4 linked regions of the Homo sapiens genome follow. The protein of the gene in region 2 purifies or fractionates together with the protein of the main gene of each other region. This does not show direct contact. Each region holds a gene or a part of one and is shown on either strand. Other genes may lie near its edges.

What was found. Proteins that work in one complex are often made in the same cells at the same time.
Region 1: the proteins of HAVCR2 (region 2) and PKN3 purify together in Homo sapiens (affinity purification with mass spectrometry; 2 studies listed by BioGRID and IntAct, with this or other methods). This does not show direct contact.
Region 3: the proteins of HAVCR2 (region 2) and ATP13A2 purify together in Homo sapiens (co-immunoprecipitation; 3 studies listed by BioGRID and IntAct, with this or other methods). This does not show direct contact.
Region 4: the proteins of HAVCR2 (region 2) and PNPLA6 purify together in Homo sapiens (co-immunoprecipitation; 3 studies listed by BioGRID and IntAct, with this or other methods). This does not show direct contact.

The regions. Positions count from the first base shown.
Region 1 is NC_000009.12:128,709,003-128,712,502, reverse strand, and holds part of PKN3 (serine/threonine-protein kinase N3), read right to left. Parts: intron 1-3,500.
Region 2 is NC_000005.10:157,085,332-157,088,688, forward strand, and holds the end of HAVCR2 (hepatitis A virus cellular receptor 2 precursor), read right to left. Parts: intron 1,964-3,357; coding exon 1,771-1,963; 3' UTR 501-1,770; downstream 1-500. UniProt on the Homo sapiens protein: Cell surface receptor implicated in modulating innate and adaptive immune responses. Generally accepted to have an inhibiting function.
Region 3 is NC_000001.11:17,001,929-17,005,428, reverse strand, and holds part of ATP13A2 (polyamine-transporting ATPase 13A2), read left to right. Parts: coding exon 1-55; intron 56-356; coding exon 357-415; intron 416-607; coding exon 608-737; intron 738-1,017; coding exon 1,018-1,097; intron 1,098-3,055; coding exon 3,056-3,133; intron 3,134-3,325; coding exon 3,326-3,395; intron 3,396-3,500. UniProt on the Homo sapiens protein: ATPase which acts as a lysosomal polyamine exporter with high affinity for spermine. Also stimulates cellular uptake of polyamines and protects against polyamine toxicity.
Region 4 is NC_000019.10:7,556,217-7,559,716, reverse strand, and holds part of PNPLA6 (patatin-like phospholipase domain-containing protein 6), read right to left. Parts: intron 3,265-3,500; coding exon 3,148-3,264; intron 3,063-3,147; coding exon 2,993-3,062; intron 2,550-2,992; coding exon 2,433-2,549; intron 868-2,432; coding exon 566-867; intron 1-565. UniProt on the Homo sapiens protein: Phospholipase B that deacylates intracellular phosphatidylcholine (PtdCho), generating glycerophosphocholine (GroPtdCho). This deacylation occurs at both sn-2 and sn-1 positions of PtdCho.

The DNA.
Region 1 (3,500 bases), on a different chromosome or scaffold from region 2:
CTGGGCCTCAGTTTCCCCATCTGAACAGTGGAGGTGAGTCCCAGCTCTGCCCCACCTCTCCCAATGGATATGAAACGTGTTTTGTCAACGGAGTAAGTTCATGTGTCACGTCACTAGAGGGTTGTCCCTCAAAGGGTAGAGAAAGCAGTGGGGATCTAGCAGCTTTTGAGGACACGAAGCAGGCCCAAGAGTATCATTTAGGGAGAGTCTGGGCCTGGGGGTTACACACAGAGAGAACTTGTAAACAAAGGCAGGGGTCCAGGGTAGAAAGAGAAGCTTAGAAAGAACAGCTCGGCCGGGCGCAGTGGCTCATGCCTGTAATCCCAACACTTTGGGAGACCAAGGCAGGCAGATCACCTGAGGTCAGGAGTTCAAGCCCAGCCTGACCAACATGGCGAAACCCCATCCCAACTAAAAATACAAAAACCAGCCGGGCATGATGGTGGGCACCTGTAATCCCAGCTACTCGGAAGGCTGAGGCAGGAGAATCACTTGAACCCGGGAGGCAGAGGTTGCAGTGAGCCAATATTGTGCCATTGCACTCCAGCCTGGGCGACAGAGCAAGACTCCAGCTCAAAAAAAAACAAACAAAACAAAAACTTGAGGCCGGGCGTGGTGGCTCACACCTGTAATCCCAGCACTTTGGTAGGCTGAGGCAGGTGGATCACCTGAGGTCGGGAGTTCGAGACCAGCCTGGCCAACATGGTGAAACTCTGTCTCTACTAAAAATACAAATATTAGCCGGGCATGGCGGTGGGCGCCTGTAATCCCAACTACTTGGGAGGCTGAGGCAGGAGAATCGCTTGAACCTGGGAGGCGGAGGTTGCAGTGAGTCAAGATTATGCCACTGCACTCCAGCCTGGGCGACAAAGCAAGACTCTGTCCCCCACCCCCCCCAAAAAAAAGGCCGGGCGTGGTGGCTCACACCTGTAATCCCAGCACTTTGGGAGGCCGAGGTGGGCAGATCACGAGGTCAGGAGATCAAGACCATGGTGAAACCTCGTCTCTACTAAAAATACAAAAAATTAGCCGGGCGCAGTGGCGGGCGCCTGTAGTTAGTCCCAGCTACTCGAGAGGCTGAGGCAGAAGAATGGCGTGAACCCGGGAGGCAGAGCTTGCAGTGAGCCGAAATCACACCACTGCAATCCGGCCTGGGCGACAGAGCAAGACTCTGTCTCCAAAAAAAAAAAAAAAAGAGGTGGGGCGAGGTGGCTCACGCCTGTAATCCCAGCACTTTGGGAGGCCAAGGCGGGCAAATCACCTGAGGTCGGAAGTTCGAGACCAGCCTGACCAACATGGAGAAATCCCATCTCTACTGAAAATATAAAAATTCGCCAGGTGTGGTGGTACATGCCTGTAATCCCAGCTATTCAAGAGGCTGAGGCAGGAGAATTGCTTGAACCCGGGAGGCGGAGGTTGCAGTGAGCCAAGATTGCGCCACTGCACTCCAGTCTGGGCAATAAGATCGTGTCACTGCACTCCAGCCTGGGCAATAAGAGCAAAACTCCATCTCAAAAAAAAAAAAGGACAACTCAAGTATCTGGGGTGTTTAGCCAGGGGACAGGATATGGGGTGGCCTTGAGTAGTTGACTTCTAGGCCTTTTAACAAGCTGTTTCTTCTGCGTTCCTCAACTTGTCTACTTGGCCATAAGTACTCCCGTGTAAGTCCTTCAAGGCCAAGACACCACCTCCTCTAGAAAACATTCCTTGGGCCGGGCATGGTTGGCTCACGCCTGTAATCCCAGCACTTTGGGAGGCCAAGGCAGATGGATCACCTGAGGTCAGGAGTTTGAGACCAGCCTGGCCAACATGGCAAAACTCTGTCTCTACTAATAATACAAAAATTAGCCAGGCATGGTGGTGCAGGCCTGTAATCCCAGCTACTCGGGAAGCTGAGGCAGGAGAATTGCTTGAACCCAGGAGGCGGAGGTTGCAGTGAGCTGATATCGCACCACTGCACTCCAGTCTGGGCGACAGTGCGAGACTCCATCTCAAAAAAAAAAGAAAAGAAAATATTCCTCGATTCCCCAAGGCCAGGTGAGAGGGCTCCATCCAGAGCCTGCATTTCCTCTTCTCAGCTCTGCTCACAATGGAATGGGGTCAGTCGGCCCTGTAGCAGTGCTCTGTGGAGACAGGCACTGGCCTTTCCAGCTCTCACTGTATCTCGGTGGGATACAGCTTCAAAGCCCATGCTCTCAGATTATTTGTTGATGATGATTTGGCTGCTGCTACAAGGAGACAGATCTCAGTGCAAGATAAGAAAATTAACTTTTTTGGCCGGGCGCGGTGGCTCACACCTGTCCCAGCACTTTGGGAGGCCTAGGCCGGCAGATCACAAGGTCAGGCGATCGAGACCATCCTGGCTAACACGGTGAAACCTTGTCTCTACTAAAAATACAAAAACAAAAAATTAGCCAGGTGTGGTGGCGGGCACCTGTAGTCCCAGCTACTCGGGAGGCTGAGACAGGAGAATGGCATGAATCCGGGAAGAGGAGCTTGCAGTGAGCCGAGATCGCGCCACTGCACTCCAGCCTGGGTGACAGAGCTCAGAGTCTCACTCTGCTCGGAGTCTCACTCTGTTTGGAGTCTCACTCTGTCACCCAGGCTGGAGTGCAGTGGCACAATCTCAGCTCACTGCAAGCTCCGCCTCCCAGGTTCATGCCATTCTCCCACCTCAGCCTCCCGAGTAGCTGGGACTACAGGCGCCCGCCACCACACCCAGCTAATTTTTGCAAATTTTTTTTTTTTTTGAGACAGAGTTTTGCTCTTGTTGCCCAGGCTGGATTCCAATGGTGCCATCTTGGCTCACTGCAACCTCCACCTCCCGGGTTCAAGCAATTCTCCTGCTTTAGCCTCCTGAGTAGCTGGGATTATAGGCATGCACCACCAGGCCCGGCTAATTTTGTATTTTTTAGTAGAGACGGGGTTTCTCCATTTTTGTCAGGCTGCTCTCGAACTCCCGACCTCAGGTGATCCACCCACCTCGGCCTCCCAAAGTGCTGAGATTACAGGCATGAGCTGCCGTGCCCAGCCTAATTTTTTTTTTTTGAGACGGGCTCTCTGTTGCCCAGGCTGGAGTGCAGTGGCGCGATCATGGCTCATTGTACCCTCAACCTCCCTGGGCTCAAGCAATCCTCCCACCTCAGCCTCCCAAGTAGCTGGGACTACAGGTACGTACCATCATACCTGGCTAATTTTTTTATTTTTTTATTTTTTTTTGAGACAGAGTCTCGCTGTGGCCCAGGCTGGAGTGCAGTGGTGCGATCTCGGCTCACTGTAGGCTCCGCCCCCCGGGGTTCCCGCCATTCTCCTGCCTCAGCCTCCCGAGTAGCTGGGACTACAGGCGCCCGCCACCACGCCCGGTTAATTTTTTGTATTTTTAGTGGAGACAGGGTTTCACCGTGTTAGCCAGGATGGTCTCGATCTCCTGACCTCGTGATCCGCCCGCCTCGGCCTCCCAAAGTGCTGGGATTACAGGCGTGAGCCACCGCGCCCGGCGA
Region 2 (3,357 bases):
AAATAATGCCGCATATCTACAACTATCTGATCTTTGACAAACCTGAGAAAAACAAGCAATGGGGAAAGGATTCCCTATTTAATAAATGGTGCTGGGAAAACTGGCTAGCCATATGTAGAAAGCTGAAACTGGATCCCTTCCTTACACCTTATACAAAAATTAATTCAAGATGGATTAAAGACTTAAACGTTAGACCTAAAACCCTAAAAACCCTAGAAGAAAACCTAGACATTACCATTCAGGACATAGGCATGGGCAAGGACTTCATGTCTAAAACACCAAAAGCAATGGCCACAAAAGCCAAAATTGACAAATGGGATCTAATTAAACTAAAGAGCTTCTGCACAGCAAAAGAAACTACCATCAGAGTGAACAGGCAACCTATAAAATGGGAGAAAATTTTCGCAACCTACTCATCTGACAAAGGGCTAATATCCAGAATCTACAATGAACTCAGACAGAGCGAGATTCTATCTCAAAAAACAAACAAACAAACAAAAAACAGTAAAAAAAAATTTTTAGTAAGTTCCAATTGTGTGTCAGAATTGTGCTAGGCGCAGGGGGCAACAATAAGCAAGACAGATCAAGCCTATACCGTCTTGAAATTTAAGTTTAGGGACCACTCTCTGTCAAAGGATCCAGCGCTGGTAATATAGATTGCTGAAGGCCTTTGCCTTCTTTCCACCAGGCAACAGAATTTGTGTCCCCGTCACTGCTTCTTCTTCTGTGAAAAATATAGCTTCAGTTTGGTCCACGAATACAGAAGTTGGTCAGAGATATTTTCTTTCAAGCACACAACAAGCAAAACTTGGCCAATACACACCAATCAAATGCACTTCGTTTTTCCCTGGGAGCTCCTGCCACATCTCAGCCCTGCAGGGCAGTCTTCATAAGGGAGACAAAAGAAGGGCTATGCACTGGCACTGACAGTTGGGCAGGCAGTGCTCAAATAAGCCTAAATCTCAACATTCCAAGGGAATCTTCAAGATCAAGGTAGACCTGGTCCAGTCATCTCTTAATCTTTTAAGGATCACTGGCTGGATGTGGTGGCTCACGCCTGTAATCCCAGTGCTTTGGGAGGCCGAGGCAGGCAAATCATGAGGTCAGGAGTTTGAGACCACACTGGCCAACATGGTGAAACCCTGTCTCTACTAAAAATACAACAAATTAGCTGGGCATGGTGGTGCATGCCTGTAATCCCAGCCACTCAGGAGGCTGAGGCAGGAGAATCGCTTGAACCCAGGAGGCGGAGCTTGCAGTGAGCCGAGATTGTGCCATTGCACTCCAGCCTGGGCAACAGAGCAAGACTCCATCTCAAAAACAAAAAACAAAAAGGGATCACAGATCTCTTTGAAAATCAGTGGCCCCTTTAGACTTTCTGTGCCAAAAAAGTTATGCTTTCACCTCAGCACCCAGTTTTCCCTAGTTTATCTGAAGTTTCATGGACATATGATGTGCCCGAATTTCCTGGAGCTCCAGAGACCCCACGTCAAGAATTCCTAGTGTATATAAAAGCCCGTTTGAGCTCTAACATCCATGATTAACAGTCTCTGGGTTGGGTAACTCTGTTGGCTTAAATACAGAGGCAATGACATGCCTGTTTAAGTTCAGTGCAGGTCCCAGTTCAATTCCCATGTGAGTCATTATCTTCTGAAAATGGGAAAACTCTGCTCCATAGCAGTGGACAGAACCTCCAAAACCAGTCAGGTGACACAGCTCATAGTTTCTGAAAAAGACAAAACACCAAGCTCAAAAATAAGGTGGTTGGATCTATGGCATTGCAAAGCGACAACCCAAAGGTTGTGAGGGTTGCTGCCTGCTGCTGACATAGCAATAATACTCATTGGGCTCCTCCACTTCATATACGTTCTCTTCAATGGTATAGATGTTTTCTTCTGAGCGAATTCCCTCTGCTACTGCATTTGCCAATCCTGAGGGAGGGAGGTTGGCCAAAGAGATGAGGCTGTGGAAATAAAGTGTTGCGGTTGAGTTAAGCATTTCCCAGGTAACACGGAATAGAGTTAAGAGAATAGGCTTTCCCAAAGAGACAGCAACTAAATATAGTGCATGATCTTTGATCAGATGCTGAACAAGTGGAAAAGCCAAGAAATAGCAATAAAATACTATGGGGAAACAATTGAGAAAATGTCCATTAATTTTAATTTTCTTAGGTATAACAACAGCATTGTGATAGCTAAGAGAATATTTTTATTTCTCGGAGGTGCAGGCTGAAGTTTAGGTGAAGTATCAAGATGTCTGCAATTATGTACACATTTAGATTTTCAAAAAATGGGCCGGGCGCCGTGGCTCACGCCTGTAATCCCAGCACTTTGGGAGGCTGAGCCTGGCAGATCACGAGGTCAGGAGTTCGAGACCAGCCTGGCCAACATAGTGAAACCCCGTCTCTACTAAACATACAAAAAATTAGCCAGCGTGGTGGCATGCACCTGTAATCCCAGCTACTTGGGAGGCTAATGCAGAGAATCGCTTGAACCCGAGAAGCAGAGGTTATAGTGAGCCGAGGTTGTGCCACTGCACTCCAGCCTGGGTGACAGAGCCAGACTCCGTCTCAAAAAAAAAAAAAAAAAATTATTAATGCTTTAGATAGCATTCAATGGACAGAGGTTTTTGTTTTGTTTTGTTTGATGCTGGGTCTTTCTCTGTCACCCAGGTGGGAATGCAGTGGCACAATCATGGCTCATTGCAGCCTTCATCTCCTGTGCTCCAGCAATCCTTCCACCTAATGTTTCCATTTTTTTGTAGAGAAGAGGTCTCATCATGTTGCCCAGGCTGGTCTTGAACTCCTGGGCTCATGTGATCCTCCCACCTCAGCCTCCCAAAGTGCTGGGCTTATAGGCGTAAGCCACAGCACCTAGCCCAGAATCATTTTTGTAATCCAAATATATTGTATTCCATTCATGTGCCAAACATCACTAAAAGTCTAAAATCTAGTAAGTTATGTAAGCCATACCTATTTGAAATGGATGTGTGGGTGTGTATAATCAGGAACGAAGGTCAAGACAGGAGTCTATAACAGACTAGCAGTTCTCAGCCCTGACTGTTCACTAGAATCACCTGGAGAGCTTTTAGAACAATTTCTATGCTTAGGCTTCATCCCCAGAGATTCTGATTCAGTTGCTCTGGGGTTGGCCCTGCATTAGTACACTTCAGTGCCTGGGTGATTCTAATAGGAAACTAAAGTTGAAAATGCCTGGGCTGTTTACAGAAATGCTGAGAACAGATACTGGGTTTCTTGCTCACTTCTGTAACGCCTAAGTGCAGCCCAGACCCTGGATATAATAGGAGCTCAATCCGTTGATGTTTCAGTTCAGTGGAAAAACCATTAATATCGAGATG
Region 3 (3,500 bases), on a different chromosome or scaffold from region 2:
GCCCTGCAACCTGGCCCACGCCGAAACACTCGTTATCGAAATAAGAGACAAAGAGGTGAGAGTCAGGCTGAGCCTGGGGCTAGAGAAGCGCAGTGAGGGTCAGGGTCGGGGGTGGAGGATGCTTGGGTGCCAACCCGGCCACTGACTTTCCATGGGACATTAGGCAGGTCCCGCTCTTCTCTGGACCTCAGCTTTCCCATCTGAGCATTGGGCAGAAGGGACGGGTCGGGTGGTTTCTGGAGGGCTCTCCATAGCCTTGATTTCTGCCTTCTCCAGCAGGGGCCGCCTGGCTGTAGGACAGGGCCTGGGAGGGGAGGGGACTCTTCTGAGACTGAGTCCATACCTCTGTGTTCCAGGATAGTTCCTGGCAGCTCTTCACTGTCCAGGTGCAGACTGAGGCCATCGGCGAGGGCAGGTGAGGCAGCCCCATTGCCCCTTCCCAGAAGCCCCTGCTACCCTGGCCTCCCCAACTTCCCCAACCCTCGGCCCCCCCATAAAGGCTGACTCTGGCGCCTCCCATCCTAGGGAGGGAAGATGGCTCTGTGAGCACAGGGAGGTGCCAGGGCAGCTCCCAGAGCTCGAGAGTAACCCTCACCTGCTTCCCCAGCCTGGAGCCGTCCCCACAGTCCCAGGCAGAGGATGGCCGGAGCCAGGCGGCAGTTGGGGCGGTACCAGAGGGTGCCTGGAAGGATACGGCCCAGCTCCACAAGAGCGAGGAGGCGGTGAGTGTCGGACAGGTGGGTTCTGAAAAAGTCCTTGCCCCTCTCTCGGCCTCGGTTTCATGATCTGTGCAATGGGAGAGTCAGACTTCATGTTCTCCCACCACCTTTTAGTTCTGTTGTCCCAAACATCCAGGATGCTGTCTGAGCACGTTTACACTTTCAGGCCTCTCCCCACCTCTCTGTCTGGTGACACCAGTCCCTGCCCCCTACCCCCATCCCTCGGCTCCCAGCATAAGCACACTGCTTCTGGGGCCGGGGCCAGCTTCCAACCCATCCTCTCCTCTCTCCCACCCAGAAGCGGGTGCTGCGGTATTACCTCTTCCAGGGCCAGCGCTATATCTGGATCGAGACCCAGCAAGCCTTCTACCAGGTCAGGTAGGAGTCAGGGCCTGTGTGGCTCATGTCACCTCCCAGAGTGGCACTGGTTTGGGCACAGACGGTGGCATGGCATGGCCTGGGCTCCCCTCTCAGCTCTGATGCTTTTGCTGTCTGAAACCTTGGGCAGGTTACTGAGCCCCTCCAGGCCTGGGATCTCTGTCTATAAATAGGGCATGAAGATAACTTCTGCCTCCTAGGATTGTTTTGATGGTGAAATAGATAATAATTTATGTAGAGCTTGGCACCGAATGTGATCTGAGGTTGTGACACCACTGTGAATCAGACTATCAGCTCTGTACTCAGACTGTCTGCTTGGGGTTTAGTCACTGCTCTGCCACCTACAAAAGGCTTAAGAAACATGAGCTCAGGCTGGGTGCGGTGGCTCACCCCTGTAATCCCAGCACTTTGGGAAGCCAAGACAGGTGGATCACGAGGTCAGGAGTTCAAGATCAGCCTGGCCAAGATGCTGAAACCCCATCTCTACTAAAAACACAAAAATTAGCTGGGCGTGATGGCATGTGCCTGTAATCCCAGCTACTTGGGAGGCTGAGGCAGGAAAATCGCTTGAACCTGGGCGGCAGAGGTTGCAGTGAGCCAACATCGCGCCACTGCACTCTAGCCTGGATGACAGAGCATGACTCCATCTCAAAAAAAAAAAAAAAGAAAAAGAAACACAAGCTCACCACACACCTTAGTTTGTGTGTATGTGTGTGTGTGTGTGTGTGTGTGTGTGTGTGTGTGTGGTTTTTTTGGTTTGTTTGTTTGTTTTTTAAGATGGAGTTTCACTCTTGTTGCCCGGGCTGGAGTGCAATGCCGCATTCTCGGCTCACTGCACCTCCGCCTCCTGGGTTCAAGCGATTCTCCTGCCTCAGCCTCCCGAGTAGTTGGGATTACAGGTGCATGCCACCACACCCAGCTAATTTTTGCATGTTTTGTAGGGACGGGGTTTCACCATGTTGGCCAGGCTGTTCTCAAATACCTGACCTCAGGTGATCCACCCGCCTCAGCCTCCCAAAGTGCTAGAATTACAGGCATGAGCCACCGGGCCCTGCTCACACACTTTAGTTTGAATGCCGCAGAAGCAGACCCCCAGACAAGGGCTCAAGGGCAGGGAGTTTGTTTTGAAGCTGATCCCAGGCAGTGCTGGGGAAGGGATGGAAGCACGGAGGGAGGTTATGCTGGCTGCCACAGCTGTGGACACCCGGACTTCAGTCGCCTGGGGATCTCCTTGGGCCAGCGTAGACCACACACCTCTGGGCGACCTCACACAGGGAGTGAGGACAGTTACCATCAAATTCCCTGCCATTATCAGTCACGGGACACAAAGTCTTCCACGCTTTCCGGGCTCACAGGCAGGGGATTCACATGCAGCCAGAAGGCCTCAGGTAAAGACAGGTGTTTTCAGGGTCCAGCTGTCATGTGGAGGTGAGGCAGAGGGGAGATGGGGATGGCAGCAACAGCCTCTGCTGCATGATGGGGATAATAGCAAAAATCACCCGTGCATTCATCACTTAGCAAGTGGCAGGCACGTCCAAAGCAGTCCCCGAGGCTTGCCCCACTTAATCTACCCATGGCCCTATGTGGTAGGTGCTGTCACTGCCCCCATTTTGCAGATGAGAAAACTGAGGCACAGAGAGGTTAAGTGACTTGCCCAGGGTATCATCAGTGTAAATAGTGCCCTTATCACTAAATAACAGCTACTCTTTTCACTGTTCATATTATTAGCATCATCTCTCGCTGTTCTCCTTCTTCAGTGACTTGGTTTGGAACCCAGTGAGAGGAACAAAAGGGCAAAGCCAAGCCTTGGGTTCAAGGGGGCTTACTTGCTCCCAGGAGCTCAGTGTGGCAGAACGGGGATGGGGGGCCTAGAGCCCATAGTCTCCAGCCTGCACAGGGTGGGGGATGCAGACCTCAGGCCCCATGGCCCATGCGTGTCCCCTCGCACCCACCCCCAGCCTCCTGGACCATGGCCGCTCTTGTGACGACGTCCACCGCTCCCGCCATGGCCTCAGCCTCCAGGACCAAATGGTGAGGTCAGTGCTGCCCTGGACCGGGGTGCCCTGAGAACTGGGGCTCCTTGTGTTGCCCCCCAATGTGGTTGCCTTCCAGTCACCTGCCTTCTCTGGGCCTCAGTTCCCCCAGCTGAAAGTGGGGAGCTCCTTCACCCCGGGAGGGTCCAGCCACAGCTCCTCCTTCTGATGGCTTGGCCTCATCCCCTCTTCCAGGAAGGCCATTTACGGCCCCAACGTGATCAGCATACCGGTCAAGTCCTACCCCCAGCTGCTGGTGGACGAGGTAGGGCTGTCCCTGGGTCTTGCCCCAGCCCTGCCTGGCGTGCTGTGTGACCTTGGCCCAGGGCTTGCCTCCTCTGGGCCACTTTACGGTGGCAACCAGACCAGC
Region 4 (3,500 bases), on a different chromosome or scaffold from region 2:
ATGCACAACCACACCCAGCTAATTTTTTATTTTTAATCTTTGTAGAGATGGGGTTTTGCTATGTTGCACAGGCTGGTCTTGAACTCCTGGTTTCAAGCAATCCTCCCACCTCAGCTTCCCAAGGTGCTGGGATTACAAGCATGAGCCACCATGCCTGGCCCCCTGATCAATTTCAATTGGCTTGGGCTATGGCACATTTTTCAGGGTCAGTAGCACATAACACACGCACTGCTACCTCCCTCTCCTGGAACTGTGGCAGACATTTCTGCTTCATCACTATTCTCATTCCCACCAATGCAGAAATGGCAGTAGAAATCACTATACAGTGCTTCCAGGGGTGCAGCTGGCCTATAAGGAGAAAGTTCTTACACAGCACATGCACAGCCACACCCCTACTACATCCCCTGCAGACATCACCAATTGATCACTGATCTGTTTTCCAGAGATTCCAGATGGGATTCCTGGATTCCTCCTGGATTCCTCCCCCTCATACCACTCTGGGCTTTAAGTAGCAAAGCTTAGCCGGACCACCTATGCAGGCACCATGCCACTCCTGCCCACTCACATAGATCTGGTCGAACTTCCCAAAGTCCATGGTCTTGAAGCAGTCGATGGGCGGGCGCAGGTACTCGCAGTAGGAGCTGGACTTGACAACCTCTAGCTGCCGCACACAGGACACGTAGGCCAGGCGGGACTGGATTTCAGCCATGTCTGGAACCTTTACCTTGTCAGCCCAGGGATTCAGCCGCTTCCACAGCAGCCACCAGCCGGACAGGCTGTCCCCGTAGGTGCTGAGGTCCGTCTCATCCTGGCTCCCCACGTCAATGGCGATGACCGTTTTGGCACCCATGCTGCGGGCGATGTCCGCTGTGGGGCCAGGGGGGTCAGCGGGCTGCTCCCCTCGGGGGCCCGGGGCAGAGATGTTCAACCCAGTCCCACAGATGCCATCATGCAAATGATCACGCAAAAAAAAAAGAGAGAATACCCACACATGCAAACACCATGCTGTCATGCACAGACGTGCAAATGATGCAACTGAAGTTGAGGAGGGGGGTCAGGTGTTGGGAGGTTTTGTTTTATTTTCTGAGACAGAGTCTCACTCTGTCGCCCAGGCTGGAGTGCAATGGCACGATCTGGGCTCGATGCAACCTCCACCTCCCGGGTTCAAGCAACTCTCTTGCCTCAGCCTCTCAAGTAGCTGGGATTAGAGGCATACACCACCACGCCCAGCTAATTTTTGTATTTTTAGTAGAAACCGGGTTTCACCATGTTGGCCAGGCTGGCCTCGAATTCCTGACCTCAAGTGATCCACCCGCCTCAGCCTCCCAAAGTGCTGGGATTACAGGCATGAGCCACTGTGCCCAGCTCAATAAAGCTTTATTTATACAATCAAACAGAGGGCAGGACTCAGCCTGTGGGCCATAGTTTGCCCACCCCTGGCCTACAAGATTGTGAGCATGTGTGCAGTTGGCGTACATGTCTGTTCATATATGCACACTTCTGGGGTGTGAGATTTTAAGTTGTGTACCTGCCCGCTTCTCACCTGCACCCATAAAGGTGGTAGGCATGACTTAACTCGGTCAGAGGTGCCGCATCCTATCTACGTGTGTGCACATCCCTGCGTGTTTGAGGGAACGTGCAGGACAAACGGGACAGACTGGCATGCGTTGGCAAATGCCCTATTTCACTGACACACGTGTTCATCTGTGCACATGTGCCTGTGTGTACACGTGTGTGTAAGCCCTACCTGCCCCTGAGAGAAAGCATGTGCATATATAGCTGGTGTGCACACGAGTGTTGCATTCCACCTGCATGTCCCCTGATGTGTGTGTGGACGTGTGCACCTGTCCCTCTTGTACGTACATCCACTTGTGCTTAACACAGCACGCCAGCAGGTAGATGTAGATTTCTTTCTTTCTTTTTTTTTTTTTTTGAGACTGAGTCTTGCTCTGTCGCCCAGGCTGGAGTGCAGTAGCATGATCTCAGCTCACTGCAACCTCCAACTCCCAGGTTCAAGTGATTTATCTGCCTCAGCCTCCTGAGTAGCTGGGATTACAGGCACACCCCACCAGCCTGGTTAATTTTTTGTATTTTTAGTAGAGACGGGGTTTCACCATGTTGGCCAGGCGGGTCTCAAACTCCTGACCTCAGGTGATCCACCCACCTCAGGCCTCCCAAAGTGCTGGGATTCCAGGCTGAGCCACCGCGCCTGGCCAGAATGTAGATCTCAACTGCACATGTCGCTGTCCACAGGCACATTCATGTATCATTTTGTGCAAGTGATCGTATGTGTGCGCATGTGTGTCTGCACCCCTGCATGGGCAGCTTGGGCATGTGTCCCGTCATCGAGCCTGTCTGTGTGTGCCCACGCGTGTGCGTGTGTGTGGTGCGGGAGGTGCTTGCGTGTGCGGGTGGTGCGGGCGGCCACTTGCCTGGCAGATTGTTGATGTAGCCGCCATCCATGAGTAGGTGCCCGTCCTTGGGGTCGCACAGCGGGGGCAGGTAGCCCGACAGCGTCATGCTGGCGCGCACGTACCGCCACAGGGAGCCTGCGCGGTGGGACACACAGACACAAACACGCACAGACACGCTCAGACACGCCGGAGGCCCAGCCGGCCCGATGGGCTCGCTGACCTGGGACGTTGTTAACGTAGCACCCGTCCACCAGCAGGTGCCCGTCCTTGGGGTCGCACAGTGGGGGCAGGTAGGGGCAGTAGGAGGCGCTGGCCCGGACGTAACGCCACACACAGCCTGCGGGGATGGCGTGAGGGGGGTAAGGCGTCCGACGAGTCTCCCTGCTCCCCTCCCCCAAGGACGGACGTACCTGGGGTCTCCGGGGCATTAGTGGGTGGCGGTTAGTGGTCGGTGATCGGGCCAGGGTGGACGGTCACTCGTGTTAACAACGTCCCAGAAGCTCAGCGGCCCTCCCGGAAGCATCCCCCCAACCCCACGTGGCGTCAGCGGTTGCTGCAGGCTGGGCGGGGACACCCACCATCTTTGTGGACTCGCATGGCTGAGGCGGTGATATCTGTGGTCACGTTGAAGTAAGGCAGCCACAGGTCCTGCGGGGACAGGGATCGAGGTGGGGGAGGAGCAGGGGGCTCCTCCGGGGAGGGGTAGGCAGGGCAGGGGATGAGGTGGGCCTACCTCAATCTGCTTATCCTGGAAGACCCGATGGATGCTGCGGTTAAAGGCAGACCCAGTGAACATGGAGGTGACTGGGTACGTGAGGTCCAACACAGGTTCCAGCACCGAAGTCATGCTCTAGGGACAAGGGGCCAGACAGGGTCAAATAGGAGTTACATGGGGTCACAGATAAGGTTCATCAATAGGGGGTGAGCAAGCAGCACTTAGGGGCCAGGTGCAGCGGCTCACACTGGTAATCCCAGCACTTTGGAGGCCAAGGCGGGCAGATCACTTGAGGCCAGGAGTTCAAAAGCAGCCTAGCCAACATGGTGAAACCCCATCTCTACTAAAATACAAAAAAATTTGCCGGGCTG